Homo sapiens: one gene and its partner. The protein of the gene in region 1 purifies or fractionates together with the protein of each later gene. This does not show direct contact. Each region holds a gene or a part of one and is shown on either strand. Other genes may lie near its edges.

Evidence for each region. The genes of interacting proteins can lie anywhere in the genome.
Region 2: the proteins of ZNF287 (region 1) and MPP1 purify together in Homo sapiens (affinity purification with mass spectrometry; one large-scale study listed by BioGRID and IntAct). This does not show direct contact.

The regions. Positions count from the first base shown.
Region 1 is NC_000017.11:16,566,163-16,570,003, reverse strand, and holds the start of ZNF287 (zinc finger protein 287), read left to right. Parts: upstream 1-1,303; intron 1,304-1,889; exon of another isoform or gene 1,890-1,961; intron 1,962-2,074; 5' UTR 2,075-2,272; coding exon 2,273-2,675; intron 2,676-3,381; coding exon 3,382-3,479; intron 3,480-3,841. UniProt on the Homo sapiens protein: May be involved in transcriptional regulation.
Region 2 is NC_000023.11:154,788,431-154,791,998, forward strand, and holds part of MPP1 (55 kDa erythrocyte membrane protein), read right to left. Parts: intron 3,418-3,568; coding exon 3,339-3,417; intron 2,639-3,338; coding exon 2,553-2,638; intron 1,593-2,552; coding exon 1,524-1,592; intron 1-1,523. UniProt on the Homo sapiens protein: Essential regulator of neutrophil polarity. Regulates neutrophil polarization by regulating AKT1 phosphorylation through a mechanism that is independent of PIK3CG activity.

The DNA of each region.
Region 1 (3,841 bases):
TTCCTCACCATGAAATTTATGAGCATAATACGGTGATTGTCCTTCAAAACCACTAAGTTTTGGGGTGGTTTGTTAATAGAACAGTAGATAACGGGAACACCTTGAATATGTTTTTCTATGCTTTTATTTTTCCAGTGTTTTATGTATTTTTGTTTTGTGTCTCTTAGAAATAACAGCTACTCGGGAGGCTGAACCCAGGAAGTTCAAGTGAGAATCACTTGAACACAGGAGAATCACTTGAACCCAGGAGGCGGAGGTTGCAGTGAGCCGAGCTCGCACCATTGCACTCCAGCCTGGGCGACAGAGCGAGACTCCGTCTCAAAAGAAAAAAAAGAAAGAAAGAAAGAACATGGGTTTTTTTCCCCCAATCTGAGAGTCTCAGAATCAAATTCCTGAGGAGGAAGTGAAAACCTTTCACAGTTAGTATGTATGCACAGTAAAGCCCGAAACCGCACATTAAGTCTTTCTGCCTTTAGACCCACATCTTCCCTGCCCATTCTTCCTCTAGGAAATCTGGCGCCCAGTTTTCTCTGCGTAGTTGGCGCGGGGCTTCAACTCCCGGCGCTCCTCCAGCTACTGGCACCTCCCTGGCCTCCAAGACGTCTACCAGACCTGCGTCTGCCCGGGGAAACTTTGAAGTTCCCTTCGGAACCTCGCAGGCTGACAAGCAAGTCAGAGCGATGGGTGGAGGAGGTTGCCATGGAGACAGGTCCAGGGCCAGAGGCGCGGGAGGGGGAGGCGGCAGCTTGGGCTCCGATTGGCTCTGCGGGCGCGCAGCGTTCCTCTGGCGCACATGCGCAGTGACGCCGAGGCGAGGTCGCGGCTAAGCAGAGGCGCCGGGGTTTCTGGGCCGGGCTTCTCAGGACCGGGCTGGAACGTGCAGCTCCTGGCCGGGACACTCTGTGCTTTGCGGGGAAGGGAAGTGGCGGAGCCCGAGGATCCGCTGCCGCTCGGGACTGAGCCCGCCACGCAGGCGCCTGTGCCAGCGTCGCCATTGTTGCCTGTGGCCTTAGGGCCGCTCCGGCTGCCCGTCGGCCGGGTCCCAGCGACAGGTATTGATGTCCGGGCGCAGCGCGCGAGTGTCCGCGCGATCAGTGACAGCCCGAGCCCGTCCACGCGCGGGCTCCCGTGCTCGTGGCTTGCGGGAGGGCAAAGACGGGGTGGAGGCTGCTGTGGGCCCAGTCCCAGCGTTGCGCGTCGCACGGTCCCCGACTCCCCCGCTGCCCTCGACCTCGACCCTGCGGCTGAAGAGGAGTAAGAGGCAGAGGGACTTGGCCGGGAAGGGGAGGCGACAGGAGGCAAGGCAAGGCTGTCGCATCACCTCCGCAGGGCCTTGTAAACAGTTGTCTTTGGTGGCACGACTGTGCCTCAGCAGGGCTCGGAGCTGGAGCCTGGGGAGAGGTGGTGTCGGTTCTCCTCCAGATCAGGCCGGTTCTAAGGTTTCCTTCGAGAATCCTGGTTTCGAATATATCCCTAAAGAACTGTCTCCTATAGAAGCACTTAAAGGACTTGAAGTCACACCAACCTCTTCACTCTTTTCCAGTCCAACCCGCTGGTCTTCCCAACCCTCTGATAGTGAAAGGCTAGAATCGGCTGGCATTAACATGCAACGCAGATAAATGGCTCGCCCTTTCCCCTGACAGTTCCCTTGGGAACCTTGAGCACTGTATTAAGAAGAAATTCTCCTAGTTTCTTCCAAGTAACAGATTCACTTTGTTATTGTTGAGAGTCCGTTCAGTCATTACAGCTTCTGTAACATCAGTGACTAAAATAATGAAACTATTTTCTCTATAAAAATGTTTAATTTTTGTTACAACAGGTTAGAGGTTTAATCTGTTGTTTGGCTTAGATTCGAGTCATTGCCTCTGACACTACCTTTTTAATAGCAGCTCCATCCCCCACCAACCCCAAGCAGATGGCAGTTCCCTTACAAGTCTAAGGATATAGGGGAGGAAGACAAGGTAAAGCTTATGTGTGTTCATCTATGCACACTGCGAGTCTGTTTCTGTGTGTGTATATGTATAGTAGAGTACACCAGGGATTCTTGACCTTGTGGTCCATGCTTGTGTTTCAGGGTCTCTTATCCATCCCTGCAAGTTCTGGGCTCAGAATTTGTCACTAAGGCTGCTAACTCTACCTTGATTCTGTTCTGCCCTCGGCTGCAGCAGCCTTTGATATAGTGTCCTTGTGACTCTAGCATGAGACTTCAAGCAGTTGGCTCACTACTGGAGAAATAAAGGATATTGCCAGATTGACTCTCCTGTCTGTAGCAATGTTAGCCTCAAGCAAGAGGATGAACAGTTCTTCACGTTCTCAAATCCTTCTAAGGTGGAAGTCAGACAAGGCTCAGAGTGGACCCTACAATGTTGAGAAGGAAATCCTTACTTCAAGATTCTTGCGTGACACTGAGACCTGTCGACAGAATTTTAGGAATTTTCCATACCCAGACCTGGCTGGTCCTCGAAAGGCATTGAGTCAACTCCGAGAGCTCTGCCTTAAGTGGCTGAGACCTGAGATTCACTCAAAGGAACAAATTTTGGAGCTGCTGGTGCTGGAGCAATTCCTGACCATCCTGCCTGGTGAGGTTAGGACTTGGGTAAAGTCCCAGTATCCAGAGAGCAGCGAGGAAGCAGTGACTCTGGTGGAGGATTTGACTCAGATTCTAGAAGAGGAAGGTGAGAATCATAGAGCAGAGAGGGGAGGAATCCCTGGGTGGTTAAAGAAGACAACTAGCACATCTGAGCAGCTCCTTTAAAGAAATCAGGGAGAGCACTGAGAGGTCCAGGATGCATTTTTTAAAAAGAAAGAAACTGGGGAGAACAAAGGTTAGTGAGTGAGAACAAGGCTTTAACATGAGCTCCATCCTGCATGGTGTTCTCCTTCCAGATTGCTTGGGAGCAAACACACATTATCTAAACCCCCAAGAAAAACGTCTTGAAATAATGACCAGACGCAACCAAATTACCACTGTGTGAGCCCTCAGAAAGTACCTTCAGAGGTTTGCACCATTCTACTAATAAATCATTTGCTTTGTGAATTGAATTTTACAATAAAATACTTCCAAAAAAGGAAGAAAGGGTCTAGAGAACATTCCCTTATTAAGAGATAACTCACAAAATTAATATCACATAAGGATTTAGTTAAAATGTGAATTTTGTTCATACTCTTTAAGATTTTTAGAGCGAGCTTGTTTTTGAAGTCTGTTTTGATGTCTTAGGACAAGTCATTGGCCCTTTCCTCTGATGCTTTGAAGTAGGAGTGCTGTTTTTGATTTCCTTCTTACTTCTCGATTTAAGAAAGTGTAGGCATCTATTTGGTGAGGGGTTTCCTAGGCTATTCAGAAAGGACTAATCTCCCTCATGACCTCTTTCTCTTCTCTAGCTCCTCAAAACTCTACCCTTTCCCAAGATACCCCAGAGGAAGACCCCAGAGGAAAACATGCTTTCCAGACAGGATGGCTAAATGACTTGGTGACCAAAGTGAGTGTGACTGTCTTTTCTGATTTTAAAATGCCTTCTTAGTGTGTGAGGACATTTTCTGACCTGGCCCTATAACTACTGTGCCCCCAGAAGCTCTATCAAGGACTTAAGCCCCAGTTTCTCTCCTATGTTATCTTGGTCTGTTAAGGTAGGTGAATGTACTATAAAGAAAAGGTGCTTCCATTGCCTTCCCTTGATATGTCTTTCCTTACTTTGACTTTGTCAGCAATATCACATAGAGAATACGAGATTGACCTCCACAGCCAGATGGATTTAGGTTTTGTTTCCCGGCTCTACCATTGGAACTGCAATTTGGGACAAGATACTTAACCTCTCTTAGCCTGAGTTATTCTACTCTCATA
Region 2 (3,568 bases), on another chromosome or scaffold:
TTTTAGAATCACAATGTGATACCACCATCAGGATGGCCAAAGGGTGAAAAAAAACCCAACAAATCAGACAATGCTAAGTATTGGTGAGAATACAGAACAACCAGAACTGTCATACTGTGCAGTTGGGGATGTAACATGGTTCACCAACTTTGGAATACTATTTGGCAATATCACCTAAAGATGAAGACACATATATCCTACAACCTGGCAATTCTACTCTCAAAAGAAAGGCATAGATGTATCCACAAAACACATGCACAAAAATCATATGATTTTTCTCCATTTTTCTGTTAACGTGGTGAATTTATTGCCCTTCAGGCAGTAAATCTTCTCATATTGCTGAATTAGATCCTGTTTGGTGAATGGCAGCCATTCAATGTAAGACCAAAAAAGCTGACAGAATAGATTAAATTGTAGCATGTTCATACAATGAATGAATGAGAATGAAGCAATATAGATGATTCCCATAAACATAATACTGAGCGAATAAAATAAGACACCAAAGAATTCATACTGTATAATTCAACGTTAATACATTTCAAAAGGGGGCAAAACTCATCCCTGCTGTTAGAAGTCAGGGTTATGGTGGGCCTTGAGGAAACACGCATGGTGAGGGGGCGGCGGTCTTAGGCATGGGTGTACTCAGTTTGTGAAAATTCATCCAGTTTTATACTTGTGATTTGTGCCCTTTGTTGAATATATGCCCATATATGCCAAAACTGCAATTTAAAAGTTTACTTAAGAAAATTATACCGTCACACTACAAGTAACCTGCAATAGAAACTTCAGATTTATTCTTTTAAATATCTCCTTCTTCCACATTGACTTGCCATGGCCCTGTCCAATCTATTCCTCTACTGGCTGATGAGCTATGTGTGAACTGGGAACCATTTCTCTTTATATCACCTCCATGTTCTAGCACAGTACTTTGTACATGGTAGACCCTCAATAAATTGTGAATAAGTGCTCAACAGATTCTATCTATCTTTTGTTTCTTTCTTTACTTTGCCACTATCAATCACGGGGCTTTATTATTGCTATTTTAAAAAGTATTTGCCAATTTGCTTGGTGAAAACTGGTGTCTCATGCATATTTTAATTTGCATTTCTTTGATGATCGGTAAGATAAAATATTTTTTCATATGTTCAATGCTCATTTGTAGTTTTCCTCCTGTGAATGATCTCTTCATTCCCTTTACCCATTTTCCTCTTGGAGCTGTATTGATTCCTTACCATCTGTAGAATAAAATTACCCTCTCCCTTCCTACCTGACCACTAGCAGCAAAGGCTCATTCATTCTCTACTCCTGTCGTCACTATGTTCTCCATTGAGGAAAGGGGAATGAGCTCCTGTATTTTATACCAGGCAGGGAATAATGGGACCCTGAGCCAAGCAGCTACACACTTGCGAGATACTTAGAACTTAAAGTTAGACTCACATCCCTTATAATCAAATTTCAAAGAATATAAGACAACATGGCCCGACTCCTGCCATCATGACAACAGAGAAAATGGTGCCACCCACCTGTAGTGCAGGAAGACGGCTTTGCTGGTTGGGAATTACTTTTAATGAGATCATTCCTTTGGTTTCTTTCTATTAAAAAAAATGGACATAAAATTGTACAGAAAACTAAGTTGAATGATGTGATCATTCATTCAAAGTCCCAGGTTTTTTTCCCCAACAACCATCTTTACATTTTGAGATTTTGTAGGACAATTCCTCCTTTAATACAAAAGTGTCATGTGCCCCATAAATCAGCATAACAATATGAAGACATGCAAAGAGTAACAAAGAAAAGCTAACTAAAGACTTTTCCGAGCTGGGCACGGTGGCTCACGCCTGTTGTAATCCCAGCTCTTTGGGAGGCTGAGGTGGGCGCATCGTCTGAGGTCAGGAGTTCAAGACTAGCCTGGCCAACATGGTGAAACCCTGTCTCTACTAAAAATACAAAAATTAGCCAGCGTGATGGTGGGTACCTGTAATCCCAGCTACTTGGGAGGTTGAGGCAGGAGAATCGCTTGAACCCAGGAGGCGGAGGTTGCAGTGAGCCGAGATCACGCCATTGTACTCCAGCCTGGGTGACAGAGCGAAACTCCATCTCAAAAAAAAAAAAAAAAGACTTTTCTTCCCCATTCTTTACCCCAAAAAGTCCTGAAGAAGTTCCTAAAAATGAACTATGGCGCATATATATCCACGCCTTTCCCCATACCAACAAAAGCATTACAAATATTTACATACATTATGCATACATATGTATTGTTTGTTTTTAACAAAAATGGGATTCTACTATATACGTTATAGCTTGCTTTACTTCATTTGGCATTACTTCATGGAACACCAGATTGATGCTCTGGGTTATTTGCCCTGCTTTAGAATTTTACTAAATAAAGGCAGAAAATTATCATTTCTTACACAGATTAAAGACTAGCAGTGAAAAGAGCCCCCTCAAGAAGGTACAAATACTTTGACAGAGAGATGAGGTCACTGATACCAATGTGGATCAACACTTATGGAGACAATGGAAGGTCTTCATCTAGCATAGAAAATACCCACCATCGCCTTCTGCAGCTGATCCACTGAATGATTTGTCACATTTGTGCCATTGATTTCTAGGATCTCATCCCCCACGTGAAGGGAGCCTGCCATGAAATGAAAAATCAATCCACAAAAGAACAAAAGTTCAAACAGGAGCTGTCAATGTAACTCAAGATACCATAGAAGAGAAACCAGGATTTACAGCATGTTATGAAACAGATTGTGTCAAATACTCAGGATTGAAAACATTTGACTTGACAGTTTAAGATGGTCTCATCCTCCTTGGCCTCAGTAGTCCAACAGCACAATAAAACACCTTGTCCTCAAATTCCTGGAACTAGAGTGGCTACTGACTCCAGACTATGACACAGATGTATACACTAAAAAGAATAACAAAGCAAGGCAAAGAACTCAGTACTCCTCTTTCACCAGCAAGCTCCATGTTTCTTTGTTGTTTAGCTCAAACCCCAAAATGCTACCAAGTGGTACTGCTGTCCTTTCCAAGTCTAATGCAATGGGTGGCATGTGGCAATTGCTCAAATATTAACTTACTAGAAAAATATTGGTATAAATAGGTGTGAAAGAAGGCTCAGATAGGGAGATGGTGGCACTGGGCAATTCACATAGAGATCTTATCATGTACTGATTCTACAGAGCCAGTTATTAAGCCACAAAAAGTCTCTTGGCACACTCACAAAAATGCTACCAGTTTGGAGGATTATAAGCTTCATGCCCCACACCACTGAACAGGGAGTAAATTATTAATCCCTGAATCAAACCCCACCCAGAGCTCCCACAGAGTACCTTGTCTATGGATCATGCCACCATGAAGAATTCTGGCCACCGTACAGGACTGTTTTTCATTCAGCTTCAGCGTGATTCCCTGAAATAAAGGCGACGGCACAATAAGCTTTATTTTAAGCTCTTTCTGAGGTTATTTTAGAAAGAACTTACGGTAATTTCTCAGGAAAATATTTTCCATTTATACCCAGGATAGTCCTCAACTAGAACAGGCATGAAGCCTGCTTTGAGGA